4 linked regions of the Homo sapiens genome follow. The protein of the gene in region 4 purifies or fractionates together with the protein of the main gene of each other region. This does not show direct contact. Each region holds a gene or a part of one and is shown on either strand. Other genes may lie near its edges.

What was found. Proteins that work in one complex are often made in the same cells at the same time.
Region 1: the proteins of PRPSAP1 (region 4) and EGLN1 fractionate together in Homo sapiens (co-fractionation; one large-scale study listed by BioGRID). This does not show direct contact.
Region 2: the proteins of PRPSAP1 (region 4) and UBLCP1 fractionate together in Homo sapiens (co-fractionation; one large-scale study listed by BioGRID). This does not show direct contact.
Region 3: the proteins of PRPSAP1 (region 4) and ANKRD28 purify together in Homo sapiens (affinity purification with mass spectrometry; one large-scale study listed by BioGRID and IntAct). This does not show direct contact.

Annotation. Positions count from the first base shown.
Region 1 is NC_000001.11:231,362,972-231,366,917, forward strand, and holds the end of EGLN1 (egl nine homolog 1), read right to left. Parts: intron 3,505-3,946; coding exon 3,440-3,504; 3' UTR 785-3,439; downstream 1-784. UniProt on the Homo sapiens protein: Cellular oxygen sensor that catalyzes, under normoxic conditions, the post-translational formation of 4-hydroxyproline in hypoxia-inducible factor (HIF) alpha proteins.
Region 2 is NC_000005.10:159,280,160-159,283,728, forward strand, and holds part of UBLCP1 (ubiquitin-like domain-containing CTD phosphatase 1), read left to right. Parts: intron 1-3,052; coding exon 3,053-3,180; intron 3,181-3,569. UniProt on the Homo sapiens protein: Dephosphorylates 26S nuclear proteasomes, thereby decreasing their proteolytic activity. Recruited to the 19S regulatory particle of the 26S proteasome through its interaction with 19S component PSMD2/RPN1.
Region 3 is NC_000003.12:15,791,164-15,795,109, forward strand, and holds part of ANKRD28 (serine/threonine-protein phosphatase 6 regulatory ankyrin repeat subunit A), read right to left. Parts: intron 1-3,946. UniProt on the Homo sapiens protein: Regulatory subunit of protein phosphatase 6 (PP6) that may be involved in the recognition of phosphoprotein substrates. Involved in the PP6-mediated dephosphorylation of NFKBIE opposing its degradation in response to TNF-alpha.
Region 4 is NC_000017.11:76,326,230-76,330,175, forward strand, and holds part of PRPSAP1 (phosphoribosyl pyrophosphate synthase-associated protein 1), read right to left. Parts: intron 3,870-3,946; coding exon 3,814-3,869; intron 2,634-3,813; coding exon 2,488-2,633; intron 1-2,487. UniProt on the Homo sapiens protein: Seems to play a negative regulatory role in 5-phosphoribose 1-diphosphate synthesis.

The DNA of each region.
Region 1 (3,946 bases), on a different chromosome or scaffold from region 4:
ATTGCCCCAATTTTCTCTCTCTGCAATTATGCTATCATATTGTTAAAGGAAAGGGCAATAATCCTCGTTGAAGGCCTACTTTGTTCCATGCATTGTAAGGTACTTTGCACACTGTATTTCATTTAGGTCTCATACAACTGTTTAAGGTGGAAGATGTGCTTTTTGTATATAAAAAAGCACATCTCAAACTTCATCTCAAACTCATTTGCCCTTTACTTCAATCCACCCAGCTATATTTTAGTGTAATTCCCAAATGTTCTAAGAAACGCTGGAAAATAACAAAACACTGTGGAAAATTTTTCTTTAAATAACAGATATATAAACAGGTATTTTGATCTCACCTTAATAAGAGCTCTCATATTTTAGTTATGACCACACAAATTAAACCTTCTTGCATATACACAATGGTACATCTATGACAATTAGAGATAAATGCCTAACCCCACTTCCTTTTGCAGCAGAGGGGTGATACAGATCTGTCAACAGCTATGAATGTTAAAATAATTTTAAAAATCCTACTAAAAGGGCAAGAATTCAAGTGCTGAGAATCCAAACAGACTTCATGGATCCCACAGACAGTCCAATGACCCCAGGGATGTTTCTAAAATTGTTGAACTCCTATGTTTACTGTTCTCTTTCCTTCATTATCATTTACAAAAAGTTATAACAAATGTCCTAGACTAAGCCAGAAAAGCTTTATCTGATGAAAGGGATCATTCGGAAAGCCAATGTATGATAAAGGATTGAAAAACAAAAAAGACAGCTGGAAATAACCACCATAATGTTTCAACAACATTTATACATCTTTTTAATTAGATTAGCTTTACAAGCAACTTGAGAGCTCTTTCATAATGAAACACTGCTTTTCAAATTACATGACTTTATAGTCTATCTGTATATGAATCCTGAAAATCTTTGCCTACTCTTGATAAAGGTCTGTGTTTTACAGCTGGTTAATGTGTTGAATAAAAACAGCATTATGAAGCTTTATCTTTAACCAGGATTAAACACATATAGGCCACAAACAGTTTTAAATTTTGTTTGAAATAGAGTCCTGCTTGGTGACAAGTTAATAGTCCCACTAACATGAAATGAATGGATATTAAATAAATGGCCATCCTGATTTCTTGATCTTTTCACAATGATTCCTAAGAGAGTATATAAACTTTTCCAAAAAATATACAATTTAAGACCTGTCTGGCAAGCACAACCCACAGATAGTAGAATCTAATACTTTTTACAACTGTAGAGGTACACATTTGAATGACAACAGGGGCTCCCAAATTAAAAGGCTGTGGCTGTACATTTTGACAATCAAACAAACCTCCCATCAACATAAAACAATTTCTACTAACCCTAAAAAAGATAATGCTTTTGAGTTGTGGCCTAACGCCGCGCACTGTACTATAGACCAGATGGCAAAGACAACTTGCGCTCCTGGGTTGGGCTGGCAGAGGCACTTACTGTAGAGATGTGATGTTATCATCTGGAAGGAAGGGGAGGAAGTAGAACAAAACTGAATATGGGCGAGGAAAAAACAATAAACTATCACTTTCTCCTGCAAATTCTCCTAAGTGAGATCACTATACTGAACATTCAATCCCATCCTAAGTCCACTGTTGGCTTCACTACACAATTTTTTTCCATGTTTTACATGAATAGCAATGGCAATCTTTTAATAAAAATTACTGAGCTTCCCATAGAAAAGGTCTCAAATTGAATACAAACTATACAGATGCTAAAAATGTCTTAAGTTGAAATATACAGAAAATTTCTGTATACTCACATTTTGGCAAAGAAGATCAAGGACAGAGATAGAAAACCTAAGTGGGCAAGGTCTTACACCCATAATTCACGCAAAATATGGATACCACCCTTTAGGTTTTGCTAAAAAGCCTAGGAAAGTGAAGTCTAAGACATCCGTCCCAATTCATTCTTTAAATAACATGTATGTGAGGCCTTGTGTGATTTTCTAATATTCCTTCCTTGTTTAAAAAGTAAATAAGAAAACCCATGAAACAAAATAAAATTATCTGATTTTGCATCTGTTTTGTTTTTTTCTAAGCTAAGCATCTTTCAGTACAGGTAAGAAGGCTGGCATCACATCTGGGAAATGCCTTAACAGATATCTGAGGAGTTACTGCACATTCCGTCAGTAACACCACACTTCAGTTTCAATGTGTACATAATCTCCCCTTGATGCTCTTCAACAGAGACAAGGTTCTTGTCTGCAGATCAGATAGATCACAGTATTAGGAAAAAAACATAACAGCAAATTTGGAAGTACAATCAATTTAAGGAGAAGCAAAAGGAAAAGACTTAGAAATGGGACATTATTGTCTACATCTAGAGGATACATACACCTGAAAGCTTAAGAAAGCCCTTATCTTAGGAACTTGAAGCTGAGGATAATCTCAAGTTCACTTAGTGCCAGTCACTTTAGTTTTTTAAAAAATTTAACTTAAACCCCAGCCTAGGCAACATGGCAAAACCCCGTCTCTACTAAACATACAAAAATTAGTCAGGCATGGTGGTGTGTGCCTGCAGTCCCAGCTAGTTGGGAGGCTGAGGTGGGAGGATTGCTTGAACCTGGGAGGCGGAGGTTGCAGTGAGCCAAGAATGCACCACTCCCCTCCAGCCTGGGTAACAGAGCAAGACTGTCTCAAAAAAACAAAACAAAACAAAAAAATTTAAACTCTTCTTGTGTCTTTTTCCTTGTAAAACATTAACTAAAAGTTATTGGTAGTAAATGGTGACTGTTTTACAATTAGGTTTCGTTATTGACAATGTCAAAAAAAAAGCAGCAATCTTTAACAGTTCAAATTAGTGTAAGGAAGGACTACAAAACAATCTGATTTTTCAGTTGTAATTAAAGTGCTCCTTTTCTTATTTTAAGTAAAATAAAATTAATCATCAGTCACTGGCAACAATCATTATTAAGAGGTCTTTTAGGGCAAAATTTAATAGTATGAACAGGTTTACAAAAATAGATTGATGTTATTTTGAGGAATAATACTGTAATTTTTTCTCAATTCAGTTTAGATAAATTGTACCTAATATAGAAAAATTATCCCAAATTCAAACTTGATATAAAAAAGGGAGAGATGAAATGAACTCAGCTAGATAACAGATCTGGCAAAATATAAGAATGAAAAAAATTCTACACAGGGCACTTATTTCATATCCAGATGTAAAAACCATTTTCAATTAGTAGCTTATCTTCCTCCTGTAAGCAATCACAGATTTGAAGTTGATCATGCAGTACAAAGTCACAGCAGTCAAAATCTTCTGTTTGATGCAACACAAAAAGTTGTTTCTGTTTCCTTATTAAAATGCGAACTGGTTGTCTATTTTTCTTTATCCCATTTATTCGTATTCACAAGTTAACAAATAGTTAACAATATTGTAGGTGAAGTGGGGTATTGCTGGATCAAAGGCTCTAGAAGACGTCTTTACCGACCGAATCTGAAGGTTTATTGAGTTCAACCCTCACACCTTTTTCACCTGCAAGGTAAAAAAAAAAAAAATTTTCATTCATTCACTAAGCACCAGAGAGCTTCTGCTACTGCATTCCACTGAATTCCTAAGAGTATGGACAATATTTCAACTTTGCAAACATCATCTGAGAACTATCACGCTTGTACTTCCAAAAACTTCCCTCAGCATTCTATTGTGATGAGGTTTCAAATAGTAAACCTTCAAGGATAAAACCATCCTCTACACAGAGATAATGATTTTGTCTTTTTATTTTAAAAGCCATTTGAGTTTCTTCAACAGAGTGTTCAGTGTCTCTGAAAGCACACTGAGCTTGTGCCACAAATAATGGCTTTAAAAATACATAGAAAATGCATGAATATTCCATTTTTATGTAAGGTCGACGTGCGATTAGCAATGGCTCTGGAAAACACAGCTAATCAGTAATGTGAATACTCAGTGGATTTTTGGA
Region 2 (3,569 bases), on a different chromosome or scaffold from region 4:
CCACAGGCTGTCCTTGTGTGTCTTTTATTGAAAACCTCTTTTTTATAAAATTAATCTACCCAAGATAACACTTCATGAAAACCTCTTTTAAGGTTAAAGATTAAAGGTTAAGATTAAGATTAAAGATCTGCCCACGTCGGCATAGAAACAGGTGGGGTTTTCTGACAGGGTCTTGCTCTGTCACCCAGGCTGGAGTGCAGTGGCATGATCAGAGCTCATTGCAGCCTCGACTTCCCTTGCTCCAGTGATCCTCACATGTCAGCCTCCCAAGTAACTGGGACTACAGGCGCACGTTACCACACCTGGCTAATTTTTGTATTTTTGGTAGAGACAAGGTTTCGCCATGTTGCCTAGGCTGGTCTCGAGGTCCTGCACTCAAGCGATCCACCTATCTCGGCCTCTCAAAGTGCAGGATTACAGGCATGAGCCACTGCGCCCAGCCCAGAAAGAGTTCTAAAATGGAGAAATATCCTCAAATGCTGTGTTTTGTTATCATGCTTTCATAATGCACTTGGTAGAAATCTCAAAGATTTCATGTAGATCTTAAAAATAAGACTGCTCATTTTTAAAATAGTTAACTTCTATTAAACATAAGCTTGTCAGTCATAAGGTTTGAAGTACATGGAAGGTACTGTGAATATGAATTTAGAATTACACTAAAAGAATGTGAATCTTGGTCATGGATAAAGCAGTTTATCGGCTGAAAACTCCATTTTTATTGTCTGTACAAGGAAATTATGATATAGGAGAATTCAGCTTATCTAGACAGTCTTAAGTTTCTAAAAATGCTTCCTTGACCTGAGACAAGATGATGGTTTCCTGTCCTTTTAGTGATCACTTAGATCAGTTTTTAAAAATGTACAGTAAACAGTGGTTATACTGGAGCAAGTGAAGTCAATTAGGTGCATAGATTTTCACCCTTAATTTGTTTATTTAAAATTTTAGAACCAGAATCATTAGAATATTTTAGTTTTGTTGTTTAATAGTGCTTAAGAGCAAATGTTTGGAAAGTAAAAATAACTTAGCAGAGCCTTGGGTTGAAAATCTTATTTACTACCCACCAACCCTGTAATTTCCTGCTGTTTAAATTTGGACACTTTGGTACATTATATATTAATTGCTTAAAAGTTAATTTGTTACCTTTCAGTCCTTAGGAAGTGAATGAAGGAATACTTTAAAACATTACCATATCACCCAGGATTATGCAGAAACTCATTTCACTACATCCTCATATCATGACTCTGTTTACTCCCATCCCCAGGGCCTAAGCAAGGCCCTGTAAAGCGTCGTCTTCAGCCCCCACATTCACTGCTGCTCGGAAACAGCACTGCTGCACTACCTTTTTGGAAGTGGGATCTCCCACAAATGCTGATTTCTGAGGAGACTCCCTTTGACAGCTCTTGACTGGTGCCCTTCAAGCAGTATGGGAGCCAGCTAACAGTGTGGAGGTCACTGGCACCAAGCTGTTCTGATGAGAGTAGAACACCTGGGAAAATTTTCTTCTGTCCATTTCAGATGGGTGGTGTTTTTCCAATGACAGAAGAAAAGTATGTAAAAAATACTTAAACCCTTCCCTACACTTAATAGGTATGGTAGTAGACTCCTTTGGGCTCACTCATTGTTCTTGCTTCTCAGTAAGTGACAATGATTAAATATCATTCATTTTTCAGTGTTAACTGTGTAAAATTAATAACTAATGACCAAAAAAAAAAAAAACTAATGACCAATTTGCATTTTCTCCAAATCAAAAGAATATACTAATACTTTGCTAAGTATGATGAAATCAGTCCTTACATGTGTGCTTTAGGAATATGTGTGCTTTAGGAATATGTATGATTTTTTTTTAACGATAACAGAAAAATTCAAATGTAAACAGAACTATATAAAATTGCTTAAACCCCCATGTAGATATCATTCAGTTTAAATTAGCTTATTAATTCATGGATGGTTATTGTTTGCTCTATACGCTACTTCCCTCTCCTTAATATTTTGAAGTAAATCTTAGTCATATCATATTATCTAAAATTAATTTAAAATTATTGAAAGACTATCTTGAGTTGTATAAAGATATTTGAGCAGGTGTCTTTTACAAAACAGCAGAATTCTTTACTGAAGCTATAAAATAAGGAAAAGTGCATAAATTTATAGTTCAACAAACTGTAAAGATAATTCTTGTAAAAAATTTTATTCCACTAAAATTACTCATGATTTTCCTTTCCAAAGATAAACACTATTACCATCTTGATTTATAGTCCTCTAGTCTTTTTAAGCATAGATTTATGCACAAATCTAGATGAAGATTGCATATAAACATATGCATTCATAGCACCGCCACTCAAGTCAAGATATGGTATTCCTTACTAATTGCAGTCCCCTACCTCGGTCTATTATTCTGACATGTGTGGTTTGAAATAATGCTTTTTAAACTCTTTTTCATCATAAAATAGATCAGCCTTAAACATTTGGAAAATATGGCAGTTCTTTTTATGGAAAACTCTTGCATAATTAAAAATGATTTTAACAGAGAATTTAATGATAAAGAAAAATGCTTATGATAAAATGTAGGAGGAAACAGGTTATATAAATGTATAATGATATCTCAGCTATATAAAAATTTAATAGAAAAATAAAATAAAAATCATCGTTAAAATTTATCTCACTGTACTGTTAGATCAAGCTGGTATTGGGGTTAAATTTTTATGAATAAAATAATGTGAATGAAATTAATTAGAAGCAACTAGAATGATAGGAGGCGGGAAAGGCTAAGTAGTTTTGCAAAGTAGAGTAGCTGTGTATGGATTCAAGTGCAATAAGAAAGCTGGTGTTGTCAGGTTCAGATTGAAAAGATAATGTTAGGTAAAATAGGTAGAAGAGTTTGTAATTTGTAAACATTATACATGACTTTCTATTTAGGCTAATATAAAAGTAATTTTTAGTATTTATGTTCTTGGTGATATTTTAACCTCATTAACTCTAATTGAAATGATAGTATAGATTTGTTAGTTTTCCTTATCACATTGTGATGTGTTGAGTAATGTTTGTTTCCTAATAGATAAGGCCTTTTATGAAAGCGCACCTAAATCGTGATAAAGACAAAGAACTTTTAAAATTAACTCAGTACCTCAAGGAGATAGCAAAATTAGATGACTTTTTGGATCTAAATCACAAATATTGGGAAAGGTAAGTTTTAATTGCTTATTTATTTTCTCTTTACATCAATGAAGAAAAAATTATCATTTTTCATCAGTGACCCCAGTATATATATAGCTGTCTTAATTTTTATTTAAAATAGGTGACTTCTAAAAACATTTTCTAATCCAGTGACCTACCCCCAAAAGTATTTTCCCCTTTCATCTTAACCTCTAACTTGTTCATAAACATACCTCTTGTAAACTCTTTAATACTTCTAGAAGAGAGAACTTGAGAGACTAGCATATGTTGGTGATGCTGCCTGTAAATTATTTTGTGATGTTAGGTAAGCTACTCCTTTATGAATCACATGGAATATAATCCCTCTTCTCATACTGTAACTTAATGTCAGGATAAGATAAAACACATGTAAAAATTTC
Region 3 (3,946 bases), on a different chromosome or scaffold from region 4:
ATTGGGATGAATCAACACTGTTAAAATGTCCTGGCAATCTATAGATTCAATGCAATCCCAATCAAAATACCAATGGAATTCTTCACAGGAATAGAAAAAATACTAAAATTTATATGGAACCAGAAAAGACCCAGAATAGCCAAAGCCACCCTAAGCAAAAAGAACAAAACTGGTGGAATCCCATTATCTAACTTCAAATTATGCTACAGACCTATCGTAACCAAAACAGCATGGTACTGTCACAAAAACAGACACGTGTACCAATAGAACAGAACAGAGAACCCAAAACCAAATCCAAACACCTACAGCAAACTCATTTTTGACAAAGGTGCCAAGAACATACACTGGGAAAAGACAAGTCTCTTTAATAAATGGTGCTGGGAAACTGGATAAACACATGCAAAATCATGAAACCAGACCCCTATCTCTTGCCATATACAAAATTCAAATCAAAATGCATTAAATACTTCAAACTGAATCTAATACAAGAAAACACTGGGGAAAATCTCCAGGACATTAGTCTGAGCAAATATTTCTTGAGCAATAGCCCACAAGCACAGGCAACCAAAGCAAACATGGACAAATGGGATCACATCAAGTTAAAAAGCTTCTGCACAGCAAAGGAAGTAATCAACAAAGTGAAGAGACAACCCACAGAACGAGAGAAAACATTTGCAAACTACCCCTCTGACAGGGGACTAATAACCAGAATATAAGGAGCTCAAACAACTCTACAGGAAAAAACCTAATAATCTGATAAAAAATGGGCAAAAGATCTGAATAGACATTCCTCAAAAGAAGACACACAAATGGTGAAAAGGTTCTCAACATCACTAATCATCAGATATCCAAAACTCAATGAGATATCATCTTGTCCCAGTTAAAATGCCTTTTATCCAAAAGTCAGGCAGTAACAAATGCTGGTGAGGATGTAAAGAAAAGGGAACCCTTGTTCACCATTGGTGGGAATGTACAACCACTACGGAGAACAGTTTGGAGGTCCCCCAAAAAACTAAAAATAGAGCTACCATATGATCGAGCAATTCCACTGCTGGGTATATATCCAAAATAAAGGAAATCAGTGTATCGAAGAGATCTGCACTCCTATGTTTGTTGCAGCACTGTTTACAATAGCTAACATTTGGAGGCAACCTAAGTGTCCATCAACAGATGAATGGATAATGAAAATGTGGTACATACACACAATGGAGTACTCGTCAGCCATAAAAAAACAGACCCAGTCATTTGCAACAACAGGGATAGAATTGGAGATCATTATGTTAACCGAAATAAGGCAGGCACAGAAAAACAAACATCACATGTTCTCACTTACTTGTGGGATCTGAACATCAAATCAACTGAATTCATGGACATAACAGAAGGATGGTTACCAGAGGCTGGGAAGGGTAATGGGGGGTTGAGTGGGAGGTGGGGATGGTTAATGGGTACAAAAAAATAGAATAAGACCTACTATTTGATAGCACAATAGGGTGACTATAGTCAATAATAACTTAATTGTATATTTTAAAATAACTTAAATAATGTAATTGGAATGTTTGTAACTCAAAGGATAAATGCTTGAGGGGATGAATACCTAATTCTTCATGATATGATTATTTCACATTACATGCCTGTACCAAAACATCCCATGTACCCCATAAATATAGACACCTATTATGTACCCACAAATTTTTTTTAAAACCCACTAAAATAAGAAGAAAAATCTATTAGGTGTGTTACTAAGAAACGTGCTGTTTAGTGGTCTACAATATTCAAAACCTCAGGGTGTGACTAAAGAAACTCATCTAAAATTATACAATGACTATTTAATGGTAGAGAAATAAATCTGAACTTATATCCATTCTAAAAATGAATAAAAACAACTTCAAAAAACTTAAGAGAAACCTGAGTTTCAAAAAGTCCAACGTTATTCTCCAAATACTTATTTAAATAAATTTACTTTGGAAAAACACGACTGTCACACTGACATAAAGCTTAAAAATATTTTATTACCTATTAAAAGTCAGTGCATTTAACACCCATTGCCTTTTAAAACCCCATATGATTCCTTATCAGACAAAATCAGATGATATTTACCATCTTAAATTCAAATAATGGCCAAAAAGTTAACAAATCTTGACTTTAAGGCAACACTCTCAACTACTAAGAAAGGGTCACGAGAGAAAAGGCCTAAAAGCAATCATAAAAGTTGTTGTCAAAAACCTTTGTATCACTGAAGACAATTGTCAAAGAGTTACTCTCAAGAAAGGCCTACTGATGAGTGAGCTGATGCTCTCAATGACTCTGAATTTTTTTTTAATTTAGGATAAATTGATTAAATATAACATAAAAGTAATGTCAGCTACAATAAACTTTGTAATGATGGAGAAATTAGCCCTGGTAAATGGAATTATAGTTCAAACTTTCTAATCAAGGTAGTATTTGTCAGTACTATTAAAATAAAACCAAAATAACAAGAAAACCTTAGGAGTTAAATGGAAAACATGTTTTCCACCTTTTCATGCGTCTATACCCCTTGAGCTATTTTCTAAGAAACGCATACTCTTCAGTATACCCTGGGTAAAGTAGCCAGACACTTCATTTAAAACAAATAAATCATGGCCCGGCACAGTGCCTCACGCCTGTAATCCCAGCACTTTGGGAGGCCAAGGCGGGCCGATCACCTGAGATCAGGAGTTTGAGACCAGCCTGGCCAACATGGTGAATGAAACCCTGTCTCTACTAAAAACACAAAAATTAATCGGGCGTGGTGGCAGGTGCCTGTAATCCCAGCTACTTGGGAGGTTGAGGCAGGAGAATCGCTTGAACCCGGGAGGCAGAGGTTGCAGTGAGCGGAGATCATGCCACTACACTCCAGCCTGGGCAACAGAGCCAGACTCTGTCTCTAAATAAATACATACATACATACATACATAAATCCTGAATTAGGTGCATGTTTCCAACTAAATATAAACTTGAAGGCAATTCACTTAGAAAAAATTTTAAAAAATATATAATGATAGCATTCTGTTCATTACCCAATGTTAAAATTAACAACAGTTTTAGCCAATGATTCAAATCTATTCAGATAATTCATTATTTTAAAAATAAGGTAAAACTTTTTTGTATCTACCTAACATTAAGTGGTCACAGCAGTATTATATTAAAAAAAAAAGGAGGAAAGATGAGAGTTAAAAATGAGCTTGCAATGGGTGCTTTCTTAAAACCACAATCATTTCTAGGTCATCTGTTTTGGTGTTGCCACAGCGACTTTGTGAATCATATGACTTTTCACCCCCTCCATAACTCAGGGGTACATTTGTTTCTGGTAAAAATATATACATTAGTGGATGTAATTTTGTTAGAGTACGTAATGTACTTTCAGCCACAACTTAGTAAACTAAATACTGGCCACTGAAAAAACATAACAGAGAGAGAAAATTATCCATATATCCACCTTTCTAAAACTGTCCATCATGTCAGCACTGAATATACTACTGTATCGTTAAGTCTGAAAACTTTTCCAACAATGACTTTACTGAAAACCTAATCTGACAAAAATTAATCAAGCACCATTGTAAAACACTCACCATGATTATTTACAAAAAGCAAATCTGATCTTATATTTAGATATACACTTACAAGAATCCTCATTTGAAATGCACAGTTAAGTATTTAATGGTGAAGTATCATGATTTCTGCAACTTACTACATATATATGTAAAAGTTGTATATTAATAAATACAGAAAGCAAATGTGGCAAAATGTTATCAATGCCAAAAGTAAGTGAAAGGTATATGGGTAGTCAGCATGTTTTTTTAACTTCCCTATGTTTGAAAAATTTCAAAGTAAAAAGCTGGGAGAACAAAAGACCCCTACTGGCTGCTACTGCCCTGAGTATATGTCCAGTGTTTTCCCTTTTGCCTCAATACCTTCCTGCCCTCAT
Region 4 (3,946 bases):
ACTAATAAATGTAGAAGGAATGATAGAGTTAGAAAAATGAACACTGACAACAATCACAGTCAATAATTGATTCAGGCAAGAATCATCAGTAGATGTTCATTTTGATGAGAAGCAGAATATTTACAGTTAAAACATAGTCTTAACATGAGGTAGTATTAATTACAAAGAGGAAAAAAAAAAGAGTAACTTTACAGTGGAGAAACCTGCCAGAGAAACCTTAACCAACTTATCAGAATGCACATCACCAGTAATGGGACACATCATGTGTTTCCTGTGATTTTCTGCCAAAAATGCATAACCTGAATCTAATCCTGAGGACACAAACAAGCCCCAATTAAGGGAGAGTCTACAAAATCACTTGATCGCACTGTTCAAAAGTATCAAGGTCATAAGAAACAAAGAATAAAGCAGCCACTCCAGATTAAATGAGACTAAAAAGAAATGACAACTAAATGCAATGTGTGACCCTGGGTTAGGTCTTGAACAAGAAAACAAGTTTATTCTTTTGCTCTAAAGGACACTGCTGGGACCACTGGTGAAACCTGAGTAAGGTCTGTAGATTACAGTGTTACAGCAATGTTAGCTTCCTGAGTCTGATAATGATACTCTGGTTATATAAGAGTCTTTTGTCTTTACAAATATACACGAAGGTATTTAGGAATGAAGGGACATTACGTCTGCAACTCACCCTCAAATGGTGGAAAAAAAAAAACCCCATGTATATAAATGTTAAATTTGGGGACTCCGAGTGAAGAGCATATGCTGGAAATCTGTACTATTCTTTCAACTTTAAGTCTAAAGTCAGTTGAAAATAAAAAGCTAAAAATGCAGATTACGGCTTGGCACGGTGGCTCACACCTGTAATCCCAGCACACTGGGAGGTCGAGGCAGGCGGATGACCTAAGGTTAGCAGCTCGAGACCAGCCTGACCAACATGGTAAAACCCTGTCTCTACTAAAAATACAAAAATTAGCTGGGTGTGGTGGTGTGTGCCTGAAGTCACAGCTACTTGGGAGGCTGAGACAGGAGAACTGCTTGAACCCAAGAGGCGGAGGCTGCAGTGAGCCAAGATCATGCCACTGCACTCCAGCCTGGGCGACAGAACGAGTTCAGTCTCAAACAAAATAAAAATAAATAAAAATAGGCCGGGCACGGTGGCTCACACCTGTAATCCCAGCACTTTGGGAGGCTGAGGCAGGCGGATCACAATGTCAAGAGATCGAGACCATCCTGGCCAACATGGTGAAAGCTCATCTCTACTAAAAATACAAAAATTAGCTCGGCGTGTTGGCGCGCACCTATAGCCCCAGCCACTGGAGAGGCTGAGGCAGGAGAATTGCTTGAACCCGGGAGGAAGAGGTTGCAGTGAGCCAAGATTGCACCACTGCACTCCAGCCTGGCGACAGAGTGAGACTCCATCTCAAAATAAATAAATAAGTAAAAATAAAAGTTACCTGATCCCCAAAGCCTGGTATTTGATCAACAGCTGTCACCCAGCTTATGATAATGTAAAAGCTTAAGATTTCACACCATCACACATACAACTTTTTTACTGAAGCTAAAATTATCAAACACCGTCTGAATGCTGAGTGCTACGCAGAACCGTCCATACACAGTCTACAAATGTGTATAACACAACTTCCTTTTACAAAAGAGGAAATCGGGCCTGGCATGGGGCTCATGTCTGTAATCTTATGTAATCTCGGCATTTTGGGAGACCATGACAGGAGGATTGTTTGAGCAAAGAAGTTCAAAACCAGCCTGGGCAATGCAGGGAGCCCCGTCTCCATACAAAAAGAAAAAAAAAGGAACAGAAAACTATCCAGGCATGGTAGTGTACCCCTACAGTCCCAGCTACCCAGGAGGCGGAGGTGGGAGAATCACTTGCGCCCCGGTCAAGGCTGCAGTGAGCCATGACTGTGCCACTGTACAGAGCAACAGGGGGAGATCCTTTCTCAAAAAAAAAAAAAAAAAGGCGGAGGATAGCAAATACCATTCCATTATTAAAAAACAACAAGACAGCATATATCTACATAGTCGATAACTCCTAGCCATTCATACTACTTAAAACTTTCTTCAGGGCCAGGTGCAGTGGCTCATGCCTGTAATCCCAGCACTCTGGGAGGCTGAGGCGAGCAGATCACCAGGTCTGGAGCAGATCACGAGGTCTGGAGTTTGAGACCAGCCTGGCCAACATGGTGAAACCCTGTCTCTACTAAAAATACAAAAATTAGCTGGGCGTGGTGGCACACACCTGTAATCTTTGCCACTCACGAGGCTGAGGCAGGAGAATTGCTTGAACCCAGGAGGCAGAGGTTGCAGTCAGCCAAGATCACGCCACTGCACTCTAGCCTGGGTGACAGAGTGAGACTCCATCTCAAAAACAAAACAAAACAAAACAAAACAACAACAACAAAACCAACAAAACCAACAAAAAAAAACTTTCTTCAATTTACAAATAAAATAAAAACACAGAGCTCATCTTACATGGCAACTCCAGGCCTGGGTGCACAGTAGCATTTTTGACCATAGGCGGGGAGTGACGACCATCGTCCATGTCCAGTTCCGTGCACTGAGCTTCCCCGTGAATGACGGCCAAACCCAGACGCAGTCTCTCCGCATAGGACTGGGCCCTAGAAGGACAAAGGGAAATGGTGAAACTGACAGGAAGAAATCCCACGCATCACTACGGCATCATTTTTTAACCATAAAATGAAAATATTTAACGTTTCAGGGACATACAAAGGCATTATTTATATAAATGAGAATGTGAGGCCCAGGCCAGCATGTAAATGACTCAAAGGGCACGTGAGTTAGGGTTTGGGATTGTATCTGATTCTAGACATTTTTTTTTTTTTTTGAGACAAGGTCTCACTGTCACCCAGGCTGGAGTGCAGTGGCGTCAACATGGCTCACTGCAGCCTCAACCTCCTGAGGCTCAGGTGATCCTCCCACCTCAACCTCCCGAGTAGCGGGGACCACAGGCATGTGTTGCCACAACTGGCTATTTTTTGTATTTTGTAGAGACGGGGTCTATGTTGCCCAGGCTGGTCTTGAACCCCTGGGCTCAAGCGATCTCCCGCTTTGGCCTCCCAAAGTGCTGGAATTACAGGCGTGAGCCACCCCGCCTGGCCCTGATTCTAGATAATTTTGATTCTATCCTTTGTCCAATATTCTGATAGTCATCTTCAGAAGAAAGAACAACGTTAAAAACCATTGCCTGGGCCGGGCACAGTGGCTTACGCCTGTAAACCCAGCACTTTGGGAGACCAAGGCAGACAGATCACTTGAGGTCAGGAGTTCAAGACTAGTCTGATGAACATGGTGAAACCCCATCTCTACTAAAAATACAAAAAACTAGCCAGGAGTGGTGACAGGCGCCTGTAATCCCAGCTACTGGGGAGGCTGAGGCAGGAGAGCTGCTTGAACCCAGGAGGCGGAGGTTGCAGTGAGCCGAGATCGCGCCATTGCACTCCAGCCTAGGTGACAGAATGAAACTCCATTTCAAAAAAAAAACAAAAAAAAAAACCATTGCTTGAAAAATGCTCATAGCCTCATTGCTTTCCTTTCTCTGAGAACTTGAAGGAACTTTGTTTTCCCAGAGGAAAGCTGAGCAACTCAGCGATCATGTGTGCTGTCTGGAGGCTGGAGATAAAGCTGTGTGTGGCATGGGACATGACAACGATGGAGGGGTTAACATGAGAGCCAGTGGGCTTTCAAAGGCCACGAGTGACAGCCTCTGGATTCCAAAGCAGCTCATTCTGACTTCGGGAGCACTCAGGAGGGATCAGGACCCATGTCTAGCTTACTTACCTCTTTGCAGCATCAGGAGACTTAGCTACAATGACTGCATTTCTGTAATTTGGAATCTAGATTTGAAGGAAAAATAGAAAATACTGAAAAGTTATCAGAAAATAACACCTGGATGCTGGTATTCAAGTTTTCC